Linked DNA regions of Homo sapiens: region 2 is linked to region 1. The links come from fine-mapping of genetic effects on gene expression. A gene starts in region 1. The other region holds a variant in brackets. All regions are shown on one strand. Distances are from middle to middle.

The links. PIP is the estimated chance that this variant, and not a neighbour inherited with it, causes the effect.
Region 2: its variant is the best candidate, but not a certain one, in a credible set for the expression of DNASE1L1 in skeletal muscle (GTEx, PIP 0.80).

Annotation. Positions count from the first base shown.
Region 1 is chrX:154,407,915-154,410,814 of GRCh38, reverse strand. DNASE1L1 (deoxyribonuclease 1 like 1) reads left to right here and starts at 1,561. Exons shown (of 8, transcript NM_001303620.2): 1 at 1,561-1,703.
Region 2 is chrX:154,351,075-154,353,974 of GRCh38, reverse strand. It overlaps FLNA (filamin A), which reads left to right. Exons shown (of 48, transcript NM_001110556.2): 35 at 1-60; 36 at 248-421; 37 at 518-679; 38 at 771-974; 39 at 1,051-1,203; 40 at 1,300-1,422; 41 at 1,528-1,794; 42 at 1,954-2,091; 43 at 2,279-2,394. Among named protein-coding and RNA genes, the nearest start is that of FLNA, 22 kb to the left of the region's middle. The variant C/T (reference allele first, on the strand shown) is at 1,767.

The sequences.
Region 1 (2,900 bases):
CTCCGCCTCCCGGGTTCAAGCTATTCTCCTGCCTCAGCCTCCTGAGTAGCTGGGACTACAGGCGCAGGTCGCCACGCCCGGCTAATTTTTTTTTTTTTTTGTATTTTAGTAGAGATGGGGTTTCACCATGTTGCCCAGGTTGGTCTCGAACTCCTGAGCTCAGGCAGTCCACCCACCTCAGCCTCCCAAAGTGCTAGGATTACAGGCATGGGCCACCGCACCCGGCAGTTTTTTATTTTTATTTTTATTTATTTTTATTTTTGAGACAGAGTCTTGCTCTGTTGCCCAGGCTGGAGTGCAGTGACGAGATCTCAGCTCATTGCAACCTCTGCCTCCCAGGTTCAAGCGATTCTTCTGTCTCAGCCTCCTGAGTAGCTGGGATTACAGGCGCAAGCCACCACACCTGGCTAATTTTTGTATTTTTAGTAGAGGCTGGGTTTCTTCATGTTGGTCAAGCTGGTCTCGAACTCCCGGCCTCAGGTGATCTGTCTGCCTCTCCTCCCAAAGTGTGAGTCATCCTACCTGGCCTGTTTTTTATTTTTAAACCATAATTTATTGATTTTTTTTTTTGAGATGGAGTCTCGCACTGTCGCCCGGGCTGGAGTGCGAGTGCAGTGGTGTGATCTCGGCTCACTGCAAGCTCCGCCTTCCAGGCTCAAGCAATTCTCCTGCCTCAGCCTCCTGAGTAGCTGGGATTACAGGCGCCCACCACCACGCCGGGCTAATTTTTTGTATTTTTAGTAGAAACGGGTTTCATTATGTTGGCCAGGCTGGTCTTGAACGCCTGACCTCGTATCCACCCGCCTCAGCCTCCCAAAGTGCTGGGATTACAGGCATGAGCCACCACGCCCAGCCCATAATTTATTGATTTTTTAAAATTTGTCCAGCCTTCTATTACCACGTCGAATCCATTAGCTACAGCCATCCCATGAGAAGCTGAGTGGATTCAGCCCCACCTCCTGCTCACAGACCCTGTCCGAGCACCTCATTTGTCCCAACAGCATTACTGCAGGACCCCCAGGACGTTGGACTGCCAGCTCCCTGGGTCTCCTCCTCTCTGGGGCAGATCCTCAGTCCTCCCTTGACTTCACGACTGTGGCCAGATCATGTGTGGACTGTCCCTCTCTTTGGGTCTCCAGAGCGCTTGCATCAAACACCCCTAACTCAGAAGTGTGCAGCCACACTGGGACTCAGAACCCAACAACAGGGACAGAAGACTCACGCCCTTGGGGTGCCCGGTCTCGTGGCATCAGGCATGACTTCCAGCTCCTGCGCCTTCCCCAGCAACTGCTGACTGGGGACCCAGACCGGGAGCTGAGCGACGGGCCTGGCGAGCGAAGCTCGGGGTCTCACTCAGGCACCAGCCCCTCCTTGCCCCAGGCTTGAGTGACTCACAGGTCTGTCATGTCCCGCTGGCCCGGGAAGGCGGGGTCTGGGTGGGAAGGTGGGCGGGCAGGTCAGCAGTTCCCAGGCCTGGTGCTGGTCCTCCTTGTTGGCGGCGAGGCGGAGACGGGGCGGGCCTGCCTGTTGGCAAGGGTGGGGCGTCCGGCCCAGCCAGGCCCTTCCTGGCCGGGTGGCTCAGGAACACAGCCTCTTCCTCTTTTTTTTCCCCTCCTAGCCCTATTCAGGCAGGAGCTGCTCTTCTGGGGTATCGCGATCCACTTAAGGATGAGGCAGACTTGGTGACAAGCTGGTCTGAGCAGGTATGGGAGCCCCCTGGGGAGACGGAAGAAGGGAGGAAGTTGCCTTCTGCCTGGGGAGGGTTTGAGAGGGAGAGGGAAGCCTAGGGCTCCCACCAAGGCTGATATTGACAGCCAGGGTTTGGGGCTGAAGCCAGGAACCGTCGCTCTCTCTGGTTCTTACTGGTAGCCCTCATGGGGGTCCCTGACGCCAGAGCCTCCAAGGCTGCATGTGCCAGCCCAGGGCTGCCCACATACCCATGTATATCCCAGAATAGGCACCAGGGTAGGGAACCCAAACTAGCATGAGTGACAGAGCAGGTGGTCAGGGAGAAACAGACATCAAACCCAGCCAGGAGAGAGACACCGCAACAGAGAGACAGAGAAGGGAAACCAGAGACGAGAGGGAAAGTGAGACAGAGACGGACAGAGCCTCAGAGAGGTAGGAAGTGAGCCCGAAGGGAAGGTGACAGGTTGATAGAGAAAAGCAGGCAGACAGAGCAGAGGAACTCATGCCTCAGGATGCAAAAGCCACATGGACAGGGCGTGGAGCAAGGAGCCGAGCCCTGCAAGGTCAGGTGAGTGTGAGACAAAGATAAACTGAGAGAGGGGGGCTCCAGCTGGTGAGATGAACAAGAAGGGCTCCCCAGTGGTGGCAGGGGCATGGGAAAGAGTCCCCATCACAGGTTGCAATGGGGATGATTTGGCCATATCTGAGACCTTTTAAAATGCACACACCCTTCACTGCCGGGAGTTTATCTTAAAGAGAACATCTCACAAGTGGGGAGACAGAGATGAACGAAGATGTTCCTGTAGTTGCTAATGGAGGCGAAAAGCACTGGGGTCTTGGAACAACATGGTGAAACCCCATCTCTCCAAACAAATTTTAAAAATTAGCTTGGTAGCCGGGCGCGGTGGCTCACACCTGTAATTCCAGCACTTTGGGAGGCTGAGGTGGGAGGATTACTTGAGGTCAGGAGTTTGAGACCAGCCTGGCCAACATGGTGAAACCCTGTCTCTACTAAAAGTACAAAAATTAGCCGGGTGTGGTGGCACGTGCCTGTAATCCTAGCTACTTGGGAGGCTGAGGCAGGATAATCTCTTGAGCCTGGGAGACGGAGGTTGCAGTGAACTGAGATCAAGCCACTGCACTCCAGCCTGGGAGACAGAGTGAGACTCCATCTCAAAAAAAGAAAAAAAAAATTAGCTTGGTGTGGCAGC
Region 2 (2,900 bases), 57 kb after region 1:
CCCATGGAGTAGTGAACAAGCCTGCCACCTTCACCGTCAACACCAAGGATGCAGGAGAGGGTGAGCAATAGCTCTGGTCTTGACCTGCTCTGTGCCCGGGATGCCCTCACCGGGGTAAGGGCTGGACTCAGGAGATACTCCTGAATGGGGCTCCCTGCCCTGCTGCCCTGGCCATCGGAGCTCCTCAGTGCAGGCCAACTGGAGTGTCCCCAGCATAGTTCCCATGCTCACCCACGGCTCTCTCCAGGGGGCCTGTCTCTGGCCATTGAGGGCCCGTCCAAAGCAGAAATCAGCTGCACTGACAACCAGGATGGGACATGCAGCGTGTCCTACCTGCCTGTGCTGCCGGGGGACTACAGCATTCTAGTCAAGTACAATGAACAGCACGTCCCAGGCAGCCCCTTCACTGCTCGGGTCACAGGTGGGTGGCACTGGGAGCAGTGACAGAAACGGGTGGCAGGGTGGGCATGGTCTCCCATGGCTGGACGCACACTGATGGCTGGCCTGTCCCCACCAGGTGACGACTCCATGCGTATGTCCCACCTAAAGGTCGGCTCTGCTGCCGACATCCCCATCAACATCTCAGAGACGGATCTCAGCCTGCTGACGGCCACTGTGGTCCCGCCCTCGGGCCGGGAGGAGCCCTGTTTGCTGAAGCGGCTGCGTAATGGCCACGTGGGTAAGCGGCTGAAGGGTCCAGGGGGTTCAGAAAGGAGGCAGCCTGTGGGGAGCCATGCCCTCCCTGACTGACAGCCATGCCCTGTGTCCAGGGATTTCATTCGTGCCCAAGGAGACGGGGGAGCACCTGGTGCATGTGAAGAAAAATGGCCAGCACGTGGCCAGCAGCCCCATCCCGGTGGTGATCAGCCAGTCGGAAATTGGGGATGCCAGTCGTGTTCGGGTCTCTGGTCAGGGCCTTCACGAAGGCCACACCTTTGAGCCTGCAGAGTTTATCATTGATACCCGCGATGCAGGTAGGCAGTGGCTGCCCACCAGCTGGGGCGGGAGCACTGTGCATAGCACCGAGGCTCAGGGGTATCCATCCCCTAGGCTATGGTGGGCTCAGCCTGTCCATTGAGGGCCCCAGCAAGGTGGACATCAACACAGAGGACCTGGAGGACGGGACGTGCAGGGTCACCTACTGCCCCACAGAGCCAGGCAACTACATCATCAACATCAAGTTTGCCGACCAGCACGTGCCTGGTGAGTGCAGCAGTGCCTCGGCAGCCCCCCTCACTACACCAGGGCCCACAGGCAGTATGTGACTGGAGGGGCGTGGGCCGTGCTTTCTTCCTGCAGGCAGCCCCTTCTCTGTGAAGGTGACAGGCGAGGGCCGGGTGAAAGAGAGCATCACCCGCAGGCGTCGGGCTCCTTCAGTGGCCAACGTTGGTAGTCATTGTGACCTCAGCCTGAAAATCCCTGGTAGGGGCTGTGGGAAGCCTGGGGAGGGGTCCTGGGGCTCAAGCAGCCCCAAGAGGAGGGGTGGAGCCCAGGGCTGCTGCTCACTAGCCCATCCCCACCCTGCAGAAATTAGCATCCAGGATATGACAGCCCAGGTGACCAGCCCATCGGGCAAGACCCATGAGGCCGAGATCGTGGAAGGGGAGAACCACACCTACTGCATCCGCTTTGTTCCCGCTGAGATGGGCACACACACAGTCAGCGTGAAGTACAAGGGCCAGCACGTGCCTGGGAGCCCCTTCCAGTTCACCGTGGGGCCCCTAGGGGAAGGGGGAGCCCACAAGGTCCGAGCTGGGGGCCCTGGC[C/T]TGGAGAGAGCTGAAGCTGGAGTGCCAGGTAGGCCTGCTCACACCCCGAGTGCTCGCTCTCCTGCGTTGGCCAGGGTGGGGTTGGGGGTGGAGGAAAGAGCCGGCAGGCATGTCTACCTTGGCTATGCCTGGAGGGGGCCGAGGCTGGTGAAGCAGCCTTCAGTGAGGACAAACTGTTCTCCCACAGCCGAATTCAGTATCTGGACCCGGGAAGCTGGTGCTGGAGGCCTGGCCATTGCTGTCGAGGGCCCCAGCAAGGCTGAGATCTCTTTTGAGGACCGCAAGGACGGCTCCTGTGGTGTGGCTTATGTGGTCCAGGAGCCAGGTACTGGGAACCCGGCTGGGGTTGGAGGAGGTGGGGCCTGAGTGTGGGTATTGGACCCAGGGCTGGCACAGATAGCCCTGCCTGGCACTCACTCTTCACTTTGAGGTCACAGGGCCACCCAGGCTGTTCGTGGGAGGTGGGAGGCCCAAAGGCTGATGAGCCGGTCTTACACTCTTTCCCTGCCCAGGTGACTACGAAGTCTCAGTCAAGTTCAACGAGGAACACATTCCCGACAGCCCCTTCGTGGTGCCTGTGGCTTCTCCGTCTGGCGACGCCCGCCGCCTCACTGTTTCTAGCCTTCAGGTGAGGCACCGAGAGAAACCGCCCACCTGGGGCTCCTGGGCCCGGACAGACCAGAGCCACCGCAGAGACCAGGCCTTGGCCCTGTGTTCAGTGACCCCCCTGGCCCAGCTCTGGGTTCCAGGCCTCTGCTCTGGCCGGGTGCAGCCCACGCTTGGGGTCGGCAGGAAATATCCTGCCCACCACGTGGAGTTTTTCTCGTGTCTCAGGTCTAAAGGCTTTGAACAGAAGCCTGTGCCCCTTGAGCACCAGGGCTGCGGTTTAAAGAGGGACAGCCTGCCAAGGCTGGGTGCTGCCCACAGGGTGGGGCAGCCCTCCCTTCCTGCCACCTGGGTGTGTGCGACGGCAGAGTGTGGGGGCAGGGGCGGGGATGTGCGCCTGTGGCTTGCTGCCCCTTGCAAATCAGTGGCTCTCCCTCTTTAAACCAAGTTGGACGCCAGATGGGTAAGTGCGACCCGCGGGCCTCTTGCTCCTGGGGCCTTTCCGTCCTCCCTTGCCCTGGCTCAAGC